Linked DNA regions of Homo sapiens: region 2 is linked to region 1. Evidence: fine-mapped expression QTL. A gene starts in region 1. The other region holds a variant in brackets. All regions are shown on one strand. Distances are from middle to middle.

Region 1 (8,553 bases):
TTCAGAGTCTTTCTTTTTCTTGGAAATGTATAATAATGCCAGTTGCAAATGGTATTGTTGAAGAGTCAAATTTTCCATAAAAGTGATCACCTTTTCAGAAAATAGGTAATTAGTTCTTTGAAAACTAAAAGTTTCTTTTAAAATTTGTAACCATTTTTCAAACTTAGCAGCTTAAATTTGTTGATTTATTCTTCAAATTCATGTTTATTGAATGCTTACTACATGCAATGTATTTTAATGGAAATATTTCCCTCTGGTAAAACAAAATATATTTTACCTTTTATTGATGACTCTGTAAGATACCAATATATGAAAAAAGGATTTTAGCTGACTTCAAATATACCAGCCAACATCACATTAGGTTACAGAAATATAAGCCATAGAGCTAAGTTAAGGAAAATGTTAGTTCTATTCTATGTTGATCAGACAAACCTGGAGTTGAGTTCTACATGCACAGTGTAAGACAAGCTGGGGTATATCTGAAAAGAGGTGATTAAGATGGTGAAAAGTGTGGGAATCCTGTCATATGGGTGTTTAAACTAAAAGGATAGTTAAGATGAAAATTATTAAAACTTTACTTTAAATCATTGAATACCTACCAGAAGAGAAATTGGACTTATTCTGTATGGTTGCAGATGACTAACCTATAAACACAGAATTTTAAGAAGAGAAACATCCCACTTAAATAGAACAACAGTGCCAAAAATGAGCAGAATTGCCTTTGAGGCTCTTGTTTATGGAGATTTTTAGAACAGAAACTGGATGACCTTTGGACAGAGGCTTTGTGGAAAGGGGTTTTGATGGAGTGAGAAGTTGGGCTCAAGGGTCCCTCCTGATTCTGAATGTCTTACGCTCCACTAGGAACCTCACTTACTCTACTAAGTTACCGGAGAGTGATGCCTTTATAGCTTTTTCGTCCTTTGTTTCTGCACTAGAAGGCCTCAGACTGCTGTGGATGTTTTGGTTTTGTTTTTGTACTTATGGCTGCTTTTTAGAGTTTTCCCATCCTTCTCATTACTGGATTGCCTCAGTTTATCCCCTGTCTTTAATAACATCCTGCTCCATTCTAATCTGTTACTTCTAATAGGCTGTGATCTAGAAAGATGTCATAACCAAACTTAATAAAAATACATGAATGATTTAAGTGAGGTCCTGAAGGGCTCTCCTGTGAGTAAAGTCTTTGGTGCAAAGAGTTTTGCCATTTATTTTATTTTATTTATTTTGAGACAAGGTCTCACTCTGTTGCCCAGGCTGGAGTACAGTGGTGCCAACACAGCTCACTGCAGCCTCGACCTCCCAGGCTCAAGCTATCCTCCCACCTCAGCCTCCCAAGTAGCTGGGACCAGAGGCATATGCCACCACGCCTGGCTATGCCATTTATTTTACTTTTTAAAGACCCTTTTAACTTCCTTTCAAGTTCTCAGGAATATTCTAGATTTAACTTATCAATTTTGTGGTTTCTGGGAATTGTTATTGAAATTCTGTAAGTTTGCTAAGCTTCCTACTAATTCATAAAATTACAAAATATTCTGAATCCATGACTGATGTTTTCAAAAACAAAATCATAGGCAATAATATACTTATCCAAGATTTTTCTTATGTAGGTAACCTTTTCTTGGATAGCTTCTTCAAAATGAAAATATCCTTTGTAACTAAACTGGACTATATAAGCAAATGATGTTTATTAGAATGCTGACTATTTTTCTCTCCTGAGCTTTTCATATAGATAGTATTGGTGTCGAATGTGCAGATTCCTTTTGAATATGGGAAATCATTGTGATATAACTGGTTTTCTCCTTAGTCCTTAGTCTCCTTAGCCCCTTAGTATATAACAATAGTTTTAACACAACTCAGTCAAAAACATGTAATGAACACTTATTGTAGGTGTTCTTGGCTAAGAATAAGGAAAAATATCAGAAAAACATAGTAATGTTTTGTATAAACTGAATATTAAAGACTGTTCTACCATTAGAGAGCTTTCTGTCTTGTTAAAGGAAATAAGAGCCAGTTATTCAGCAAAGAAATATATTATCAATGCAGGATTCGTGCAGACAGTAAATGGCTTTGAAATTTGTAATGAGATATGGAGTAGTTCTGTGATTGCTTTGGCAGCACATATGCTAAAATTGGAACAATACAGAGAAGATTAGCATGGCCTCTGCATGAGAATGGCATACAAATTTGTGAAGCATTCTATATTTTTAGCAATATATTGTACTCTTGAAAAATGCTAAGACAGTGAGTGTATTCTTAAATGCATGTTAATATGCAAAAATGCATATGTTCATTGGCTAGATTTAGTCATTCCACGCTGTATACATATTTCAAAACATCATGTTGTACATGATAAATACATACAAGTTTATTTGTTAATTAAAAAACAGAAATGGATTAGTTCTGCCTAAATATACTAGACTCAGAAGTTAATAATAAATGTGCATCCACCCCTTTGTTTAATTTGCCTTGGCTATTAAGTTAACATTTATGCTAAGAACCTTTGGCTGTTATAGTTTCCTATCATTTATTTGGTAAAAAGATTAATTGGAGAGGTGTTTCAATGGCTCCATTAGGAGATATGAAGAAAGCCCCACCATTGCCAGTATTTGGGAACTCAAAGCGTTTATTTTCTAAAGCAGGTGATGCTACATGAATTGCTGTCCACACCTTCTGCTACTTTCCTCTGTTGGCCAGAAGAATAATTTTAATGTCGCCCAAATGGATTATGCTGACCTCAACCCAGATCCCCCTGGGAGATATAAACTTCTTATATGTTCCTGGCTGGGTCATTGTAAATAATATCTACATGTATCCCAAAGCTCTGAATTATCCTCATCTGTAACAGACACAACGACTAAATGGTATCTGGAACGTAGTTAATTTTCTGGAAAATATTCAAAGGAACAAAATGAGCACTGCAATACAAAATTGCTGTCGACTTAACTTTTGCCAGTTTCCCTGGATGTGTAAGTAGAATTATATTTTCACAGAACTTGCAAAAATCTCAGACTCGGCTGCTATTTAATCTCTTTCCAGAAGCACCAGCCCTGAGCAATCCTATCTGCAATTAGCTGCGTGTGGTTGCTACTAAATTGCTCCCCATAAGTTAGTTCCTAACACTGTTTCACAGCACGGCATACTCTATAAAGGGAGAACGCTTGGAAGGACCGAAGAGTTCCCTTTGTCGTGCCCTTGCCCTGCCTCTGGACAACGATGTTCTTACACTGCCGACTAGCTAATCCTGTGACCCTTTTCTTTCAGCACCTTGAGTTTGAGTTAGGCAATACCTCTTACACCAAAGTGGGCACACCTTCGGATCATGTAGGCAGCGATTGTTTAGCCGAGACATCCCCCTACCCCCGCAAAAGGCAGCAGAGAAGCGGCGAACGCCGCTTAGCAGTTGGCGCGCTCTCAGTGCGGGTGACGCGGGGCTGGGTTGGGGTGTTCCGTCCCCGGGTCGTGGGACTCCCCGAGAGGGGGTGGCTGGAGGAGGAGGGAGGGCTTGTTTCGCTGGGGGATGTGGGAAGTAGGCGCTAGCCTGTTTCGCGGTTTTTTAAGCCCCTTGGCATGCCCTGACCTGATCTAGAGGGAGTCTACTGCTCTTAGGAATGTTCCGGGAGAAGGTGGGAGATTGCTTCCCAGGGGAGGCCTGTGGGTGCTGCAGGGCACCAGGGGGGTCACTAGGGAGATGCAGGGCGCGGGCCAGGAGGGGCGCCAGGGCAGCCGGGGGCCAGGCTGAGGCGACCGGGACCAGCGGGCAGCCGGGCGTCGGGGGCGTCGGTCGGGGCGCGGGGGACCCCCCCCCCGGGCGGCAGCGGCAGCGGCGATCCGATCCCGCGGGCTGCGCCGCCCGGGCTGTCAAGCGCGGGGGGCGGGCGGGAGGAAGGGGTGGAGGTGCGAGGGGAGGAGGGCTGGCACCGGAGCGCCGCGGCGTCGGTGCAATAAAAATGCATCGCATGGAACTGCCCGTGGAGAAGGACGGGACGGAGCCGGGGCAGCCAGAAGAGGTGGGAAAAGCGGAGGAGGACGCCCAGGAGGAGGCGGCGGCGGCGGCCGGGAAGTGAAAGGTCTCGCAAAGTTCAGCGGCGGCTGCGGGCGCCGAGCCCCGGGCTAGCGGCAGACGAGCCCGCAGGGCCGCTCCGCGGGGCAGCGCAGCCAGGCCGGCTATGGTCCCGGGGCTCCCGCCGCCCCCCAGGTGCCCGGGACCCGCCAGGCCGGTGCGCGAGGGTCACCCCACCTCCCCGCGCGGTCCCGGCCCCTGGCTCCCAGCTGCCGGCGACCGCTGACCGAGCCCGGCGCCCCAGGAGGAGGAAGAAACCAGGGCCCCGTTCCCTCCCGAGGACGGCGGCGCTTCATCCCGCAGCCCAGAGGTCTCGGCTCCCTCCGGCACCCGCCCGGCCCGGCTGCTCCCGGCTCCTCCCGGCCATGGGGAGCTGCGCGCGGCTGCTGCTGCTCTGGGGCTGCACGGTGGTGGCCGCAGGTGGGTGGTGACGCGGCGGGGCCCCCACCCCTTCCCTCGCTGCTTCTCTAACCCATCTCGGGACTCGGGGGTGCAGGGGAGCCAGGGCTGCGAGCGCAGAGCGCTGCTCCCGAGGGTGAAATGAGTGGCCATGTTCCGCCTCCTTTCCCCGGGGCTCCGCAGTTTCAAATACTATTGATTTATTTTTACAACTGGGATACACATGCGCTTGGATAACCAGCTATCCTGGGTGCGCCCTGCCGGGGATACTGCGACCGGGGTTTCTTTCTTGGTTTGGCTTGTTAAAAAACTGCTTTTCCACTTGGTGAGGGAACAAAGGACCCAGCTCGCCATCCCCCGGCACTTCATGGCCTAAGGAATGATGAGGAGGGGTGGCCCAGCGACCCTGGGCGCGCGTGGGCTGGGGCCGGTCTCTGGTAGAAGCCCATCGCTGGTGTCCCTGACCTGGTGCTGGGTACTAGAGAACCAGGTAAGGACACCTGGGGCAGGGCTGAGCGCCCTCTCCCCGGAGCAGTGACTGGAACGCAGTGGGACTCCTGGCTTGGACGATAGGTGGTGATCACCCCGGGCTTGCATTGAGCTGGCTGGCCGCCCCTGGGGAATTGGTACCCTGGCAGAGACTCTGCGGGAGGTCGGAGGCGGGTCTGCTCCCTGGCTCGGTAACTGGACAACCGGCGTCGGCGTCGGCAGATGCCCTCTCCCTCCCACTCCCATCCTGGCTTTCTTGGGCTGCCCTAGGCCACCGGCTCCTGGCTCGTGGTTTCTGTATTCGGGAGCCCCTTCTGCTCCTCTCCCTCCCTCTTGCGGGTCACCTGGTTTCCAGTTAGGCGTAAGCGCAGCCCTGTAGGTGAGGGGGAGAGATGTGAGGGAGTCTGCAGACATCCAGTCTCTCGTGCGGATCTTGACTGCTTCAGAAAGGGGCGCCTGGGCTAGAGGGATGCGCTGGTGGCTACAGAACATTGTAGCACGCATCTCCTCCCTTGGGCTTCCACTCTTCCCTGAGGGCCGCTGGCACCCAGCAAAATCCAGGCTTTCCAGTCTGCATCCCAAACCAGTCCAAGTCACAGGAGCATCCTTAGTATCATTGAATAGTCCCTTGAGTGACTCCAAGTATTTTGCCCCATGGATTCTTTATCTGGCTCAAATCTTTTCTGGACTTAGGAGTTTAGGGGCATTTAAAATTATTGGATATTTTTCCCAGGGACCTATTAAAGGCCTAAGATTTTACTTTAATTCTTGCACTCTTAAAATATGAGCTTTAAAAAAAACCTTTTCCTTCTCAAACCATATTATGGCAAAAACATGCAAGCCATTGAAAGGTTGTAAATAAACATCACAAGGCAAGTGTTTCAAGTCAAAAATACTTGTACAGGCAGTATATGATTTTCCTTGAAATTTTTTACAGGTGAGTCATAGCACATTGTGTGTTTGTGTGCTTCTGGCCACAAGCAACTGTTGCCCCAGCTAATGAGAAAAGTGGCAAACAGAACCCAGGCATAATGCACACTTTAATTTGACATTTAAAAAATAATGCCTAAGGAAGCCCTTTAGTTGCAAGGCTTCGTGGGGTTGGCCATTGTCAGTGTGTGAAATGTCTCTGTTGCAGCCTAAGCTGTCATTTGGCCTCCTCCAATCCTTACTATGACAACAGTTCAGAGGTACTGCTTCTTAAGCAGCAGAAACATTCAATTAGCCAGAATTTAAGGGTTGATTTCCTTTTCCCTCTTTCCCCCTCTGTTTTAACCTTTAAAATAGATGATTTTTGCTTAAGGTATTCACAATTAAAATGACAAACGCAAATCAAAGGATTATAGTATGTACTCAGAATGTTAATAAGTGGATAATGTTTATCATTTTAAGTCATTTTAAAACATTAAAGTCTGTTGGACCTTTGGGAGGAAAAGTGTGTTTTTTAAAGAAGGTCTTGTAGTTCACAGATAATATTTAAAGGTGCTGTTAGTGGCTGCCAGACTGTAGACACTCTCCTGTTAAGCAAACAGTTAACTACTCTATAACCTGTCACAGGTAGAAACCCTGAAGAGACAGCATGTAAAATAAGCTTTTCTGCCATTTGGCAGTTCAGAGAGTTTTTTTCTTAGTTATGTTTATGTAATGTTAGAAACTGATAGTGCACATCTGAACTCCAAAGGTCTCTAGCTTTGCCTCCCTCTAAATGAGGACCCATTGTATATTTATTAAATATCTCATATTGCTTTTCCTAGGGAATTTATCCCTTCCCTGGCTTAAAAATATAAAGAAAATAGAATTCCACATTTCCTTCTAAATACATTCTCATAATAAACATGTTAAATCATGTGAAGGACTCACATTAAATTTGAAAGACTAACTTAGGTGGTCTTAAAAACATTATGGTTTTTCAATAGTCATGACTTCAAAAACACATCAATGTATTTGAAATACAGAAAACATTTATAAGGCAAAGTACTTGAAAAGTTTTAGGCCAATAATCTTCACCCTGGTGGTTCTATTTTCCCTCCTCTTGCCCTCTGCCTAAAGTGTTTGTTTCTGTGATGTGAATTTTACATCTGAACATGAAAAGCAAATACACACACACACGCACACACACACGCATACACGAATGCATTGTGAATGCAGAACAGTGTTCATGCTCAAACAGGAACATGGTGGAGCATGGTAGAATTTGCCATTTATCGAAAGTCTCAAGCGCTTTTGGGGAGATCCTTGACTGTTGTTGATGGACTAGGTGGCCAAAAGAGCTTTCCAGATGGGTTTGTCTTGCATCATGCATGCTTTCCCTTTCTTAGGACTGAGTGGAGTAGCTGGAGTGAGTTCCCGCTGTGAAAAAGCCTGCAACCCTCGGATGGGAAATTTGGCTTTGGGGCGAAAACTCTGGGCAGACACCACCTGCGGTCAGAATGCTACCGAACTGTACTGCTTCTACAGTGAGAACACGGATCTGACTTGTCGGCAGCCCAAATGTGACAAGTGCAATGCTGCCTATCCTCACCTGGCTCACCTGCCATCTGCCATGGCAGACTCATCCTTCCGGTTTCCTCGCACATGGTGGCAGTCTGCGGAGGATGTGCACAGAGAAAAGATCCAGTTAGACCTGGAAGCTGAATTCTACTTCACTCACCTAATTGTGATGTTCAAGTCCCCCAGGCCGGCTGCCATGGTGCTGGACCGCTCCCAGGACTTTGGGAAAACATGGAAGCCTTATAAGTACTTTGCGACTAACTGCTCCGCTACATTTGGCCTGGAAGATGATGTTGTCAAGAAGGGCGCTATTTGTACTTCTAAATACTCCAGTCCTTTTCCATGCACTGGAGGAGAGGTAAGGGCACCTGTTTAACTCTACACTGTAAGTAAGATAGAAAAATGTTACCAGCCCGCATTTTTTTTTAAAGCATGAAGCTATACTTGTAGCAACATGAATGAAATTAGAATTTTTCATGAGATTTATTTGTCATAAATTATTTCTTACCCTTACATATGAATGTGTAGTCATTTTCAAGCAGATTGCCCACTGGCTGGGTTTAAGTCAGTATTCTAAGATTCAAATTTTTCACATATAAAAAAGAGCAGACACAAATCATCACTCTAGAGGCTCCTCATTGCTTCAGTTCTCGGGACTACTTACTGTGCTTCTGAAGGGGGAAGAGTTACTGAGACAGTCTGTTCCTGGAGCCCACACGGGTATCTTCCTGATAGTGTTAATATAAATAGGAAGTAAATAAAAACAAAGCCAAGAAAGAAAAAAAAATCTGTTTGACAGAAGGATACTTTTGTATGACAGTAGCAAACAAATGAAAGTAGTTTCTTTTAACATACAAAGGTTCTTCTGGGCTCACAGACACATGAATTTCAGCTTAGGCCATCTTAAACTCATTCTGCAAAACAGCCTCATTAGCTACTGATCCAATTTCTATGTGGAATGTTTTCTCTTTAATATTCCTTTCTCCTAAGGGAGAAACAGGTCTCTTTTTAGCTCTTCTTAACTTATGTGGCAATACCTTGAAAGGCTCCCCCCAACCCTCAGGTGTATGAGAACAGAGAAAACTGAATAAAAGCAGATTAAGAGAATATAATACTTC
Region 2 (16,888 bases), 160 kb after region 1:
ATCATCAGGCATTAGATTCTCATAAGGAACGCGCAACCTGGATTCCTCATATGCACAGTTCACAGTAGGGTTCACGCTCCTGTAAGAATCTAATGCCACCACTAATCTAACAGGAGGCGGAGCTCGGGGGTTAATGCAAGTGATGGGGAGTGGCTGTAAATACAGACGAAGCTTAGCTTGCTTGCTGCCACTCACTTCCTGCTGTGTGGTCTGGTTCCTAATGGGGGTTGGGGACCTCTGCCCTACAGCTAGTCACCATCAGCAACAGAAGCTTCATCATCCCCATTCTCTTCTTCCTGCTAAGGCTGAGAAAGGTAAGTGCCCTTCAATTTTTTTTTTTTTTAATCACTGACTGTAGGAAATGCTGTCACCATGGTCCTGTTAGCTGATAGTATACCCTATAGAAGAGGTCTGGGTGGATAAGTGGTACTCCGATTGCCTGAAAAGGAAACCATGCATTTGGATAATGGCCAGTAGGTAACAATGTGCAATGATATAATCGTTGTCATATATAGTCTATTCTCTTCCTTCATACTGTGCAAGCTCTTTGAGGGAGAGGTCCCGTTTGCTTTGTTCACATTGCATCCCCAGGCAGATCACAGTGTCTGGCATATTGTAGGTGCTCAAACAATAGTCATTAAATGAATAATTAGATGATGTCTTCAGATTACACCCAGCTATTTTTTATTTATTCAAACATTTAAGAAACATCTATTGAACAGCCGCTGCAAAAAAAAAAAAAAAAAAAAAAAAAAAAAAAAAACCAGCATAATGGAGCGGTTATGTACGTGTAATCTAGAGCCAGATTGCTTGGGTTCAAACACTGGCCCTGTCACTTACCAGTTGTGTGACCCTGGGCTAGCCAACTAAGCTTTCTGTATTTTAGCATCCCAGTCTCTACGTGGAGAAGATACTAGCACCTACCTCACAAGGTTGTTGGGAAGATAAAGTGGATGAATATACTTAGAACAGTGTCTGGCATATCATCAATACCAGGTGTTTGCTACAGTGATGATAATGACATACCAGGCTGGTCAGGGCACTAAGGACACAGGAGTAAAGAAGTCAGGTAGGTCCCTACATTCATATAACTTAGATTCTAGTAAGAGAAACAAACAACCAACCTATAAACAAAATTTCAAAGATTTGTAAACACTGAGAAGGAAATGATGCTTCACTGCCGTGGAGAAAGCCACACTGAAATGGACTTTAGCATGCAGAGCATTTATCAAGGAGTGTCAATGTCAGTGGAGAGCGGGAGGAGAAACTGGAAGTGAGCAGAGAGAGAAGGTGAGCTGCAAAGCATGCCTAGTGATAGCCTCAGCCAACCCCAGAAGGAAGGCAGAAGTGGAATGACCCTTCAGGGTCATCCCAAGTTGACCTGAGGCAGACAGGCCTTCAGATATCCCACTGGATGCTGGCCACCCTAGGATGGGGCATGGCATTGGGGAAATCTCTCTGTGGCTGAAGCAATTCCTATAGGGGCTGACAGCTGGAGACTGTCTGCCACTGGCCCTCCAGCAGCTGCAGCAGCCAGGTCTCCATTGCAGGAGTATCGGCCACACACTCAGTTTGCAGATAGTGTGAGTGGGAGCTACCTAAAATAAAACAGTCACACCTTAAATATTACCTCTTTGAGGAGGTAATATTTAAGCTGATAACCATATGGTGAGAAGGTGGTAGACTTCCAGATAGATAGATAGATAGATAGATAGATAGATAGATAGGAGAAATAAATAGATGGGAGAAAACACTCTTATTAAAGGGAATAACAAGTGTGATATCCCCAGGTCAGAACAAGCTGGCAGCACTTGAAGTGCAGACAGCAAGAAGACCCATGAGGCCAGAGCATGGCATAAAATGAGGTCTGAAGAAGCCAGCAAGGGCCAGAACATGAGAACCTTGCAGGAGTTTAGATTTATTCTAGAAAATGATGAGTAGCAATGGGAGGGATTTATTTTTTTAAAAAAGGTCCCGCTAGCTGAATGGATTGAAGAAAGAACCAAAATGAAAGCAGAAAGAACCATTAAAAGGTTACGGAAGTTTTCCAAACACGAGGTGGCATGTGGATGAAGATAGAGAAAAGTGGCTGTGTTTATATGCAGTGCTCTGTAGGAAAACCCACAAGGCTTGCTAATGGATTAAACGTGGGAAATGAAGGAAAGGGGAATGAAGACTGACTCCTAGTTTTTTGGCTTGATAACTGGAAGGATGATGGTATAAGAGCAGATTTAGGCATGAAAATAAAGAGTTCCATCATGGATTCTTTTGGTTTGAGATGCATGTTAGCCAGTGAGTGGAGATGCCAAGTAGCCAGATACACAAGTCTAGAGCACAAAAGAAGCAACGTCAAAGGCTGAACATCTGTACTTGGAAGGCATAAGTAAACCGATGATATGTTGATTTGTTATTGCTACATTACCATTCCCAACACTCAGTGTTGTAAAACCATTGATTTTTGCTGCCATCTGCAGATTGCCCGGGGTTCAAGTGAGGCATCTCTGCTTCTGTCTGCAGGTCTGTGGGTCAGGTGGGCAGCTCTACTCTGTCTCTCATCCTCCTGGGACCAACAGGCCAGCCAGGCAATGGCGATGGCTCAAGAGGAAGCACTGGAGGCCTTGAGAAAGACCTGGGGGCCGGGCGCAGTAGCTCACACCTGCAATCCAAACACTTTGGGAGGCCAACAGGAGGAGGAGGATCATTTGAGCCCATGAATTAGAGACCAGCCTGGGCAACATGGCAAAACCCTGTCTCTACCCAAAAATACAAAAATTAGCCGGGCCTGGTGGCACACGCCTGTAGTCCCAGCTACTTGGGAGCCTGAGGTGGGAGGACTGACTGAGCCCAAGAGGTTGAGGCTGTAGGGAGCTGTGATTGTGCCACTCCAGTCTGGGCGATAGAGTGAGACTCTGTCTCAAAAAAATAAAAATAAAAATTTACAATAAATAAAAGGTGGGGGCTCATGATACACCTGTACTTCTGTCAATATATTAGTACCAAAAGCAAGTTACACGTCCAAGTCCCACATCAAGGGCAGAAGTATATTCTGCCTGAGATGACACCCTGGATGCAGGAAGTGGGAGAGAGGATAAAATTGGGATCCATAATATAGTCTACCACAGATGAGATGACCAGGATAAGAACATAGGCAGGGCTGGGCGCGGTGGCTCATGCCTGTAATCCCAGCACTTTGGGAGGCCGAGGCGGGCAGATCACGAGGTCAGGAGTTTGAGACCAGCCTGGCCGACATGGTGAAACCCCATCTCTACTAAAAATATAAAAAATTAGCCAAGTGTGGTGGCACATGCCTGTAGTCCCAGCTACTTGGGAGGCTGAGGCAGGAGAATTGCTTGAACCCGGGAGGCGGAGGTTGCAGTGAGCCAAGATCACACCACCTCACTCCAGCCTGGATGACAGAGTGAGAGTCTGTCTCAAAAAAAAAAAAAAAAAAAAAAAAAAAAAAGAATGTAGGCAAAGAACAGGGCCTTGGACAAATCCCTAAGTTACCTCTGCATTTGCTGCTCAACCACAAGAAGAAAAACAAACAAGGATTTAGAAAGAGCAGCAAGTGCCATTGGAGAATAATTAAGAGAAGGTGAGAGAAATGAGAGAGTGAGATTTCAGGAAGAAGACTGTCAAATGTTGCTGAGACGTGAAATCACATGTGAGCAAAGAAGTGGCTACCATAACTGGCAGCCTGGTCGACAAATCCAGATTTCCTATGGCAAGACGAGAAGACAGTTGAGACGGTTTTCATCTCATCCTGGGTTCTCAGAGAGCAAGAAAGCAAATTCTGTGCGGACAATGAAAAAACACCACTCTCTCCAGAATAGGAGGATTAGGAAGGTGAGCAGTGGATGATAAGGTTGGAAAGGTTGTTGAAGGCCAGATTGTCAAAGCTCTTGAACACCTGGCTAAGGAGTTGGAACTTGGTCCATTGGGCAAAAGGGAGTCATCCAAACCTCTCTGAGCACAGAGTAATGTATCTCAAGTTTTGTTTTAGGAAGAAAAATCCAAATGCAATATAAGATGGCTTAGAGAGAGAAGAAAGTGGTGGCAAAAAAGCCAATTATCCCGGTTCTGTTGGTCTGGCCTCTTGCCCAGAACTTAACCTCTCCGGAGGGCCTGGGGTCCTTTTACATTAAGCTGCTGGTGTTTGCAGTTGTTGATTGATTGATTGATTGATTGATTTTGACAGAGTCTCACTCTGTCGCCCAGGCTGGAGTGCAGTGGTGTGATCTTGGCTCACTGCAACCTCTGCTTCCCAGGTTCAAGCGATTCTCCTGCCTCTGCCTTCCAAGTAGCTGGGATTAGAGGCGTGCATCATCACATCCGGTTAATTTTTGTATTTGTAGTAGAGAGGGTGTTTCGCCATGTTGACCAGGCTGGTCTCGATCTCCTGACCACAAGAGATCCACCCGCTTCAGCCTCCCAAATTGTTGGGATTACAGGCGTGAGCCACCATGCCCGACTAGTTGTTGGCATCTTTCTTGCTTGCTTCCTCCTTGCCTGATTGACCTTAGTGGCTTTATGATAACTTTCTAATCGCAATCTGGGTCCTGACCCTCTGCTCCACTTTCCATCCCAGCACTCACTCATTGAGGAAAAGCAGAGGCATCTCCTTCCCTCTTGTGTTCGAGGGGAACCACAGCCTGGCCTATTGGACCAGGCTCACAATTCCAGGCTCCTGCGCACATCTGTCCCCCCAAGTTCCTGCTGCTCTCCTTCCCCAGGTCCCATTCCTGTCCACCCTCCCAGACTCCTCACAGCCTGCTAAACGTCCATGGAGTTCAAAGCATGGTGACAGCACCTGACTTACTGGCGTAGGCTCTATTCTTCTTCCTGTCTCACCTCAGGTGTGGTATTGGAGAGATCTTCCACCTCGTGCAAATGCTGGTCCTATCTAAAGTCTCACTTGGCCCCTCTAGTGACTCTTAGCAGAAAGTTGAGGTGGGGAGAGCATGTAAGCAAGCCCTGATCCCGAGAAGCAGCCACTACCTCCACTATGTGATACCATCTGCACCATTTTGCAAGAAGCCTAAAAGAAAAATACGCCAACAAGTGTCTCACATAATGAAGTATCACTATTAGTATTACATAGTAATTTGGCTTGGAAAATTTTTCCTGCATTCTCACGCCTGGGCTTCCAACAGATCTACAGCAGGATGAACAGATGTTGTTTCTAGAACATAAGGATTACGTGAAATGAACTATAGTTAACGTGAGAAGTCACTATTGCATCTGTGCTAGGAATTTTCCTTGTTGATTTTATAGGGCCAGGAGATTTTTCCATAGCACATACATATTCAGTTGCTATGCATGGTATTTTCCTGTTGTCCACCAGCCAAATATTCTTTAGCTGACTGGTTCCAGTGGGAAATAGAGAAAAGCATAAAACTGGAAATGAGGAAGTAATGACATCAGTGTTCAAATCACAACAAACAACGTGAAAACAAATATTCCACTTTAACCTGATTTATGCTGTTAACGAAGGATTGGATTTGGCAAAATCAGAAACTGCTAACTCTTCTGTGTCACTGCCATTAAGAAACAATTTGTTTTCCTCAATTTGGTGCCTCTTTTGCCAAAAGGGCTCACTGGGAAGTCTTTTCCCATGTAAAGGGACACGTGCACGCTCTCGGATTCCACCACTGGGTTCTAGTTGCACTCCTTGCTACTGAATCCTTTGGTGATCTCTGCCTCTGAGAGCAGCCATGCTACCTGCCTGGTGACAGAGCCACTCTGAGCTGCCTGTTCTGACGTTACGTTACGTTACGTTACGTTACGCTACGCTACGCTACGCTACGTTACGTTACGTTACGTTACGTTACGTTACGTTACGTTACGTTACGTTACGTTACGTTACATTATGCAGGTCCAGAAACAACTTGAACTCCAGACTCTGCTCTCTGACTATTCCATTATTGGATTTATTTCAGTTTGTGATAACCAGACTGGATTACTGTGCTCAAGAGGGACCAGGCTCTTTAGTCTCAGGCTCCATGCTGTTCCCTCCTGCCATGGCCTACCCTACTGGCAAAGCTTCATGTGCTCTGATGTCCCTTGTTGCCTTGGCAGTTAGTCACTAACATCTCATAGTCATTTCTTTGCCATTGTGAATAGTGCTGCAGTGAATATTCACATGCATGTGTCTTTATGATAGAATGATTTATAGTCCTCTGGGTATATACCCATAATGGGATTGCTGGCTTGAATGGTAGTTCTGCTTTTAGCTTTTTGAGGAATCACCACACTGCTTTCCATTGCAGCACTATTCGTAATAGCGAAGACATGGAATCATCCTAAATGCCCATTGATGACAGATTGGATAAAGGAACTATGGTATATATACACCATGGAATACTACACAGCCATAAAAAAGAACCAGATCATGTCTTTTGCAGGAACATGGATGGAGCTGGAAGCCATTATCCTTAGCAAACTAACACAGGAACAGAAAACCAAATACCACATGCTCTCACTTATAAGTGGGAGCTAAATGATGAGAAATCATAAACACAAAGAAGGGAACAGCAGACACTGGGTTCTCCTTTGAGGGTGGAGGAGGGGAGGAGGGAGAGGAGTGGAAAATAACTGCTGGGTGCTAGGCTTAGTACCTGGGTGATGAAATAACCTGTACAGCAAACCCTGTGACACAAGTTTACCTATATAACAAACCTGCACGAGTATCCCTGAACCTAAAACAGAAGTTTTTTCTAAAAAAAAAAGTTACTTCTTAGAGGTGCTCTGCAATACCTTCGTCAAAGGGTAGCTCATAGCCGTTTCTCCACTGAGTCTCCATACTGCTGCAATAGATTATATTTCATAGCTCTTTCCAAAAAGTCTTTTTGAACTAAACTTGTGTAAGTCCCTAAAACATTAGTAGAGGAGGCCGGGCACGGTGGCTCATGTAATCCCAGCACTTTGGGAGGCTGAGGCGGGCAGATCACCTGAGGTTGGGAGTTTGAGACCAGCCTGACCAACATGGAGAAACCCCATCTCTACTAAAAATACAAAATTAGCCGGGCATGGTGGCAGGGGCCTGTAATCCCAACAACTCAGGAGGCTGAGGCAGGAGAATCGCTTGAACCCAGGAGGCGGAGGTTGCAGTAAGCCGAGATCACGCCATTGCACTCCAGCCTGGGCAACAAGAGCAAAACTCCATCTCAAATTGTCACACTTGAAGCTGCCATTTAGACTGTGTCCTTTGGGTCCCTGAGGTGGGATATGGCCCACTGTCTCTCTTGTAGCCTCATGTCCTTCAGTGTGTTATTTGCCTTTCCTAAATGAATCCTATCCCTACTGTCACCTCCAGATGAAACAAGGATGCATTAGTAACACTAGTCCCCAGTCTCTCAGTTCCCCAGGTGTAGCCCTACCATACCCTGGGTTATATTTTTAAAGGAATGGAGACCATGACTATAGGCTGCGTAAGAGTCAAGTTACTCAACTATTTATTAAGCACCTTTTTATGCCCACTACCAAGGAGTTCCTGGCACTCAGCTATCATCACTAGTCTCAACAGGAATCCCTGGAAGGGTGATTACATCACATGCTTTTCACAGCCCCCTTGACCTCCAATAGCTGTGGTGTAATACTGGGTGATCATGGACACAGAATAGAGCAAGTCTAGGCCGCAGATGACCCCAAGGCAGATGCAATGCAGCTGACTCTCACATCCTCCTCCATCCTTCAAAAGGTTCAGAGTAAACAGTGCCTTTATGTTATGGTCATTATTCTGTGATTCCCTTCTCTGCTTCATTACCTCATGTCTGTTGCTTTGACTATAAACACAGACCAAATGCCAAGACAGAGAGTAAAGTCACCAGGAAACCCAGCTCCAGTGCCAAACCCACCTTTGCACCCTTGGACTGCAGCTATGTTTGTTTAAGGATGGCAGGAAAAAGGTGCACACATGGCTCAGTGCTCATTTGCTTCCTGCTCTGTTAGGTATTAAACCTCAGAAACTAGGGCAACTCTCAGTCTCTCTCGCTATAGCCAACTGACTAGAACATTAACCTCCAGTTTAACATCTGATATGGTTTGGCTGTGTCCCAACCCAAATCTCATCTTGAATTGTAGCTCCCATAATTCCCACGTGTTGTAAGAGGGACCTGGTGGGAGATAATTGAATCATGGGGGCGGTTTCCCCCATACTGTTCTCATGGTAGTGAATAAGTCTCACAAGATCTGATGGTTTTATAAGGGGACACCCCTTTTGCTCGGTTCTTATTCTTTACTTGCCTGCTGCCATGTAAGACGTGCCATTCACGTTCTGCCATGATTGCGAGGCCTCCCCAGCCACATGGAACTGTGAGTCCATTAAACCTCTTTTATAAATTACCCAGTCTTGGGTATGTCTTTATCAGCAGCATGAAAACAGACGAATACAACGCCCAATGAGTGTTTGCCTCCTCTCCTCTTCTCTTCTTTTTTCTTATCTCCTCCCAAGTTCCTGTAAGCTAAACACCATAATGTAATAAGCAAGAAGTATATGTTGCAGGATTTCTCTTGTTTATGGTTCTTATAGAAAAAATATTGTTGATTATCTTAACCTGCATGTAACTTATAATAACAAAAAGATTCCTGTCAAATAATTCTCCCTTAATAAATTCCCTTTGCCATTATAAACTAAGACATGACCTTGAAGAATTAATACCCAGACAATACAACATTTGTGTGTTATTTAATTAGCTTACTGCTTTTGTTAATGTACATTCCTGTGGTCACACACCACTTTCCACTCAAACCTAAAAAAAATGCTACACGGGATGAAAAACTTTTTTACCAGTGTGTCCATATTTATGCTCCCTTAAAAATCGTTTTTAACCTCCTAGCCAGGAGTTTTGAGGTTATCTCAGGACAATAGCTAATTTATTAAGTCCTAG[A/G]CAATTATAACAACAATAAGCCTTTGTGCAAACTTTTGGCATACTAGAGATTTGGGGTTAAAAAAAGAGAGAGAGAGAATTTGTCAGATCCAGCAGAGACCACTGTCATTTTGGTACCATCTAATCCCCATTATGAAGTGATTTTTATCAAACTGGGAAGTGATCATCTGGCAGCATAAACGACACTGGAGAAACGAATTCAATACATCAGAGAGGTTATTCCATGTCATCTACATGCTCAAACAGGAGAGACAGAGAACATTGGCTCTCATAAATCCTTAGTTTCCGGCCAAAGGCCTCTCAGAGCTCTTGGCTGCCTAATCAGATGTCTGGGATTGTGAAAGCAAATGAAGTTTATGGAGCTGAGGGGGAACTTCTGATTTACCATAAAAAGGAGGTTTGAACTGGATAACTTTTTCAGTATTCTACATAATTATCTGATAATTATGTAATTATCTAATAATTATTATCTCCATTTTACATATGACACAACGAAGACTACAGAGAGTTGAGAAACTTGCTCACAGTCCGGCAGCAAGGAAATGATGGATTCAGAATGCAAATCTTCCCACCACACCCACATCACAGAGGAAGCTGCAGATCTTTACCGGTGATTCCATTTCAGCGCCCCCAGGTTGCCCAGTCTGGGCATGATGTAGTAACCCGGTGACTCACAGCACCGCACTCATGAGGTTGAGAGTCATTCAGTGATTCAGCAAGTACTACTGGGCAGCTACTGTGTGCCAGGCACTGGTCTAGGTGCTAGGGATACAGCAGTGAATGGAAAAAACTGCTGTCCTCACCGAGTTTACACTCTACTCAGGGGTAATAGATAAATAAATAAGTACATAATAATGTCAGGTAGTGATGAGTGCGATGAACACAGATAAGGAAGGGCAGGGGGCAGTGGCTCATGCCTGTAATTCCAGCACTGTGGGAGGCCAAGGTGGGATGATCGTTTGAGGCCAGAAGTTTGAGACCAGCCTGGGCAACACAGCAAGACTCTGTCTTTACAAAAAATAGAAATAAAAAATAACTGGGTGGGATGGTGTACGTCCATGGTCCTAGTTACTTGGAAGGCTGAAGACAGAGCAGCAGGAGGATCATTTGGGGCTGGGAGGCGGAGGCTGCAGTGAGCCAAGATTGTGCCACTGCAGTCCAGCCTGGGCTACAGAGTGAGACCCTGTCTCAAAAATAAATAAATAAATAAAATTTAAAATTATATGTATTTGAAAAGAAGAAGAATACATTTGAGCAAAGACTGAAGGAAATTAGGGGAGAGGGAAGAAAGTGACCCATGTGGTATCTGGGAAAGAGCATTTCAGGCAGAGGGAATATCAAGGGAAGGGCCTAAGCAGGAAGCTTAGACAGTTAAGGAAAAGTTCTTAGAATATTGCGCCAGGCTGCAGCAGAGCGAGCAAAGTGGTAGTTGAAAGAGATGAGGGGCATGGGGTGGCAGGGATGGAGGGGATCAGGAAGAGCCCTATGGCTTCTGAAAATAATTGGGATTTTACTCAGTCTGGAAGTCTTTGGAAGGTTTTCTGTAGCAAAGTGATATAGTCTGATTTACATTTTAAGAAACTCACTCTTAGTTGCCAGCTAACTTGGCTGTCACCAGTTAGCAAGGCCCCAAACCACAAACAGAATGAGAGGTAAGATGATAGTGCAAAAAGCACAGGTTTGGGAACTAGATCTGTTTCCAAATCTCAGCCTTCATCATCTGCTGGCTCTATTAACCTTGCAGTTGTTACTGTAGCCTCTCTGAGCCTCAGTTTCCTCAACTGCAAAAGGAAAAAATAACCTCCTCTATACTTATTAATTAAATATAAAGCACATGAAATATAGTAGTTAGCACTAAAAAATAAAAAATAAAAAAACCAGCCTTGTAGTTATTCGATTTAGTGATCAACTATTGAGTTACTTTATCATTATTAAAAATAATGCAGGCAAAAATTAGCCAGGCATGGTGGTACACACCTGTAGTCGTAGCTACTCAGGAGGCTGAGACACAGAATTGCTTGAACCTGGGAGGTGGAGGTTGCAGTGAGCCGAGATCGCACCACTACCCTCCAGCTTGGGTGACGGAGGGAGACTCTGTCTAAATAAATAAATAAATAAATAATACAGGCAAGACCTGGATTGAATAATATGTCTTCTCTGCCACTAGAATAATCACAACAAAAAATTAACAGTGGGGAAAAAATGAAAGAAAGATGTGCTCTTCCTTGCTCTTAAAAAACAACCCGGAAAATTGTATCCTAGGAAATTTTTAAGTATATACAAATAATTGTAAAGCAAGTAATGAATCTTAGTTCATTGTACATAGTTTCAGTAATTAGCATTTATCCAATCTTATTTTATCTTGTTTTTCTGGAATATTTTAAAGCAAATACCAGATATATTATCATTTCAACTATAAATCCTTCAGTTTGTATTCCTAACAGAAAAGAAGTTTTTGTTAACATAACTCCAATACAATGATTGTGTCGAACAAAACTAGCAATCATTTCTTAGTATCATCTAGTTAGTACCTAGTCCATGTGCAGATTTCTCAACTATCTCAAAAGTATCCTTTTACAATTATTTTGCTCAAATCAAGATCTAAACTAGGCCCATCAATTGCAGTTAGCTGATAAGGCTGTCAAGTCTCTCTTTATTTATTTATTTATTATTATTTATTATTTTGAGACGGAGTTTTTTTGTTCTTGTCGCCCAGGCTGGAGTGCAGTGGCACGATCTCAGCTCATTGCAACCTCCACATCCTGGGTTCAAGCGATCCTCCTGCCTCAGTCTCCTGAGTAGCTGGGATTACAGGCACATGCCACCACTCTTGGCTAATTTTTGTATTTTTAGTAGAGACAGGGTTACACCATATTGGCCAGGCTGGTCTCAACCTCCTGACCTCAGGTGATTCACCCGCCTTGGCCTCCCCAAATGCTTAGATTACAGGCGTGAGCTACCTCGCTTGACCTCAAGTCTCTTTTTATCTGCAACAGTCTCTTCTTCTTCTTCTGCCCCTTCCCCTGCTCCTCCCCTACTCCCTCTCTCTCTTCTCTCCTCCTTCCCCATCACCTCTCCTCTGTCTTTTGCTTTGAAAAAACTGTCCCTCTACATGCAAAGACATCAAATACTATACTGGGGACACTCTCCAGTGCTTCAGAGAGGAGTAAGAGGAATGCTTTTTTGTTTCCAAGAGAGGAGGTGAATACTATGAACTCCCGTAGAGAAAATACCATGTAATATGGTGAGGAGATGGCTGAGAGCCGACTTAGACTTTTTAATATGGGTATAAAGGGCTGTCATGGAAACGGACCATATGATCTGAGGCTTCTCTTCCAGTCCTAGAATTATCTGGGATCTATCAAGAGATAGGTATTTAGATGATTACCATGGGAAAATGACCAACAGAATTTCCTGTTTTCTGTTAAGGAGCAACCAGAAAATGTTTCCTTGTTGGTTAGAAATGACAAAAGTGTTTCCTTCCTGCCTGGTGGAAAGGAAGGGGATAGGCCGGTTGTCACTATGAAAGGCCGATGCTGCCCTTAGCACTGATGGCCTAATTGGGTTGGTTTAGCTAAATCCAACTCTGGAGTCATAACTAAAGCTAGTCAGCCTTTATTAATACTGTCAGGTAATTCTTAGAACAAGACTAAAAAGAATTACAGGGATACTGATAAATTCTGAATGAGCAGAAGTGGTTTTTTGAGATGAGAGAAAAGAAAACCAGGTTAAGATAGCTCCTTTTGATTCCATACCATGGTATAAGTAAGTTTTGCCAAAGGATCACTTGTGGAAATAACTACCAAGGTGCTAAACTTTCAAGATCTTGTCCAAGAAGTGACTTCTGAAAGCAAGTACAAAAGTCACATTTAGATATTGGTTCCCATACAGTTAAAGAAAGTGTATTTATTTAATTACTTTATTTAACTATCAGGTACAAAATCCCTTTGCAGACTTTAATAAAACCTGGGATCATGCCACTTCACTCCAGCCTGGGCAAAAGAGCGAAACTCTGTCTCAAAAAATATACATATATATGGTGATAAAGTTTCCCATTTTCCAATGCAGCTTCACATTTGAACAGCTCTAATTGATACAGCATTATGGCAGGGTTTTTGTGTGTGAGTGAGATCCAAAACACTCAATCATGTAAAAGGGTACAGTCCTGTTGTATGTTAACACACTGATCATATAAGCCTATGAGATGAGCCAATCACCAATTATGTTACAGTCGAATCTGCTTTGTGTTGGGATGCTTTAATGTAGGGTTTCACTAAATAAATGAATTTTCATATACTGAACTGAAAAAAAAGACCAAAATTAGAAATGAAGTATATTTGTATTCATTGCAAATTATTTTGGACTTGGGAATCCTTTTGAAATGCCCACGTGAATCAACAAGCAGTGGGAGGTGAAGAAAAAGAGCGTGGTCTCCCACTCATAGCTAATTCTGGCTCTGGTAATCAGAGAAACATAAGAGGCAGCCAAGTAAGGACTGGCAGCTCCAACCGGCTTGTTTTGTTATTTTGTCTTTGACTCAGTAGTCAACCTTCCTTTGGCATTCATTGGAGTGTGACCTAGGACTAGGCCCACTGTGTTCTGAGTATAATAATTCCTCATCAAAATGTAAAGCCAGGAGTCTAGTTGAATGGGAGGGCCTATCACATGGCTGAAAATGATGCAGGACAGGCAAGCCCCAAAATTAGGGTTTAGCCCAGGAGGGTTCTTAGCTTCACCCAGGAAAGAATTGTGAAAGGAAAATCTTGGAGTCCCAAAATCATTAAGCTAAAGGGAAAAGTCAAGCTGGGAACTGCTTAGGGCAAAACTGCCTCCCATTCTATTCGAAGTCACCCCTCTGTTCACTGAGATAAATGCCTATCTGATTGCCTCCTTTGGAGAGGCTAATCAGAAACTCAAAGTAATGTAACCATTTGTCTCTTATCTACCTATGACTTGGAAGCCCCCTCCGCACTTAGAGTTGTCCTGCCTTTCTGGACCAAACCAATGTTCATCTTATATATGTTGATTGATATCTCATGACTTCCTAAAATGTATAAAACCAAATAGTCCTCTGACCACCTTTGGCACATGTCATCAGGCCCTCCTGAGGCTGTGTCACCTATTTATTGGCAAAATTAACTTTCCAAATTAACTAAGATCTGTCTCAGATATTTGGGGTTCACAGAATCCAAGGGTGAGTGGTGGCATTAGAAAGCAGGGCTGCTCCATGCGCTGTGTGCCCAGATGAGCAGCTCACAGGCAGTTCTGTACTCGTATCTATACCCACTTTTAATTATATGCAAATTAAAGTGCAGTTTATGCAGACATTTCTAGGATGAGGGTGGTAACTTCTGGGTTATCAGAGTTGTTGCCATAGAAAGGGGCAGTAGCTTCAACATGAGTGTTGCCATAGCAATGGTAATCTGACATGGCACACTAGTGGGTGTGTCTTACAGAAAGCTGCTTCCACCAGGACCTGCTTTTTGTTTTTTGTTTTCTGAGAAGGAGTTTCCCACTTGTTGCCCAGGCTGGAGTGCAATGGCACGATTTCGGCTCACTGCAACCTCCACCTCCTGGGTTCAAGCGATTCTCCTGCCTCAGCCTCCCGAGTAGCTGGGATTATAGGCACGGACCATCAGGCCCAGCTAATTTTGTATTTTTAGTAGAGATGGGGTTTCTCCATGTTGGTCAGGCTGGTCTCGAATTCCCGACCTCAGATGATCTGCCCGTCTCGGTCTCTCAAAGTGCTGGGATTACAGGCCTGAGTCACCGTGCCTGGCAGGACCTGTTTTAGCTAGTCCTTGGTTTGGTCCAGTGTCCAAGCCCCGCCTCCGGAGTCGAGTCCTCCTCCTGCCTCACTCCCTGCTCAGAGATTAGATACTCCATTTTTTTTGTTTGTTTGAGACAGAGTCTCACTCTGTCGCCCAGGCTAGAGTGCAGTGTGCAGTGGGGTGATCTGGGCTCACTGCAAGCTCCGCCTCCCAGGTTCACGCCATTCTCCTGCTTCAGCCTCCTGAGTAGCTGGGTGCCCGCCACCACGCTTGGCTGATTTTTTTATTTTTATTTTTATTTTATTTTTTATTTTTTTTATTTTTAGTAGAGACGGGGTTTCATCGTGTGAGCCAGGATGGTCTGGATCTCCTAACCTCGTGATCCGCCCGCCTTGGCCTCCCAAAGTGCTGGGATTACAGGCGTGAGCCACCGCGCCCGGCCTAGATAACTCCTTAATCTCAAGGGGGCTGCAGAAGGGCGGAGGTCCATCTTCTGTAACTGCTTCCTACTGAGTTCATGGGCAGTCGGCCCCACGTAGCACTGGAGGAGTAAAAATCTCTGGATAGCTGGTCTAAGGGGCCCAAAGGCAGGACGTGTTCACTCTCCAGATCAGCAGACCAGATGGGTTGGAACTAGCTGGTCCTCAGTTTGGTCCAGTGTCCAAGCCTTGCCTCCGGAGTTGGGTCCCACCCCCTGCCTCAAAAAGAAGGCACAAATCTCACTAGGTGGGAAGGAAGCAAGAAGTATCTGCAGATAAAGGGAATGGGAGCGGACCACAGCTCTCCACTCGAAAATACATCTCTTCATCTCCTGTGTTTGTCCTACCTCTGGGAATTAAGTTTCTGACAATAAAGCACACGCTAGAGGTAGCACATGCTGTGCGAGGGTTGCCAGTTTGGGTTCAGCGCCCTGAATTACCCTATATATTTTTTTAATAGTTAGCCATGTCTTTTAAGGTCCAGAATTGATAGAAAGAGCAAAATTTTTAATTTTTTCCATTTTAAATTACAATAGGAGGAATTTTGGTTAGATTTGACCAAGATTCTAGTTTATAGTAAGTTGCTTTTAAAGGAAAAAAAATGAAAAGCCAGCCACTGATAAAGGCTGTTCTTTGGAAAAAGACATAATGTACTAATCCCATTTCCTCAAACTAAAATCAATAAGACCAATGGGAAAATACAGGGAGACAGGTTTCAAGTCAGTACAAGGAAGAACATTGTAACACTTTTATCGGCATTAAACATATCACTCCCTGAAGACACACAACAATGGAAATAGTCACGCTTGGATGACTTCTTTTTGTTTTTGTTTGTTTGAGACAAACAAACTCAGCCACCCAGGCTGGAGTGCAGCGGCATGATCACGGTTTGTTGCAGCCTCGACCTCCCTGGGCTCAGATGATCATCCCACCTCAGCCTCCCAAGTAGCTGGGGCCACAAGCATGCACTACCATGCCAGCTAATTTTTGTAATTTCTGTAGAGACAAGGTTTCACCATGTGGTCCAGGCTGGTCTCAAACTCCTGCAAGATTAGATGACTTCTTATTAGGAAATAGACTACCAATGATTTCCAACCACAGTAGGTCTGAAGATCCTTAGCATAAAGAATTTTGAGAACCCCCCACCCCCAGGGTAGTATTTGCACTCTAAGAATCTATTTAGAACCAGTATGCCACAATAACTGTACACTTAAAAATGATTAAAATAGTAAGTTTTATGTTATATTTTACCACAATAAAAAATATGATGACAGCTGGGCGCAGTGGCTTATGCCTGTAATCCCAGCACTTTGGGAGGCCAAGGCAGGCGGATCACCTGAGGTCAGGAGTTCGAGACCAGCCTGGCCAACATGGTGAAACCCCATCTCTACTAAAAATACAAAAATTATCTGTGTATGGAGATAGTACCATTGCACTCCAGCCTGGGGGACAAGAGCGAGACTTCGTCTCAAAAAAAAAAAAAAAATTAGCGGGGCTGTGGTGGCACGCCTGTAATCCCAGCTACTCAGGAGGCTGAGGCGGAAGAATCACTTGAACCTGGGAGGCTGAGGTTGCAGTGAGCTGAGATGGCACCACTGCACTCCAGCCTGGGAGACAGAGGGAGACCCTGTCTCAAATAAATAAATAAATAAATAATAACAAGGCCAGGCACGGTGGCTCACACCTGTAATCCCAGCACTTTAGGAGGCCAAGGCGGGCGGATCACCTGAGGTCAGGAGTTTGAGAGCAG

What was found. PIP is the estimated chance that this variant, and not a neighbour inherited with it, causes the effect.
Region 2: its variant is fine-mapped to the expression of NTN4 in caudate (GTEx, PIP 0.96).

The regions. Positions count from the first base shown.
Region 1 is chr12:95,786,179-95,794,731 of GRCh38, reverse strand. It overlaps NTN4 (netrin 4), which reads left to right and starts at 3,968. Exons shown (of 10, transcript NM_021229.4): 1 at 3,968-4,477; 2 at 7,264-7,793. The coding sequence starts at 4,423. It also overlaps the pseudogene RNU6-247P.
Region 2 is chr12:95,626,098-95,642,985 of GRCh38, reverse strand. No RefSeq gene overlaps it. Among named protein-coding and RNA genes, the nearest start is that of USP44, 83 kb to the right of the region's middle. RefSeq lists an enhancer at 8,828-10,027. The variant A/G (reference allele first, on the strand shown) is at 8,889.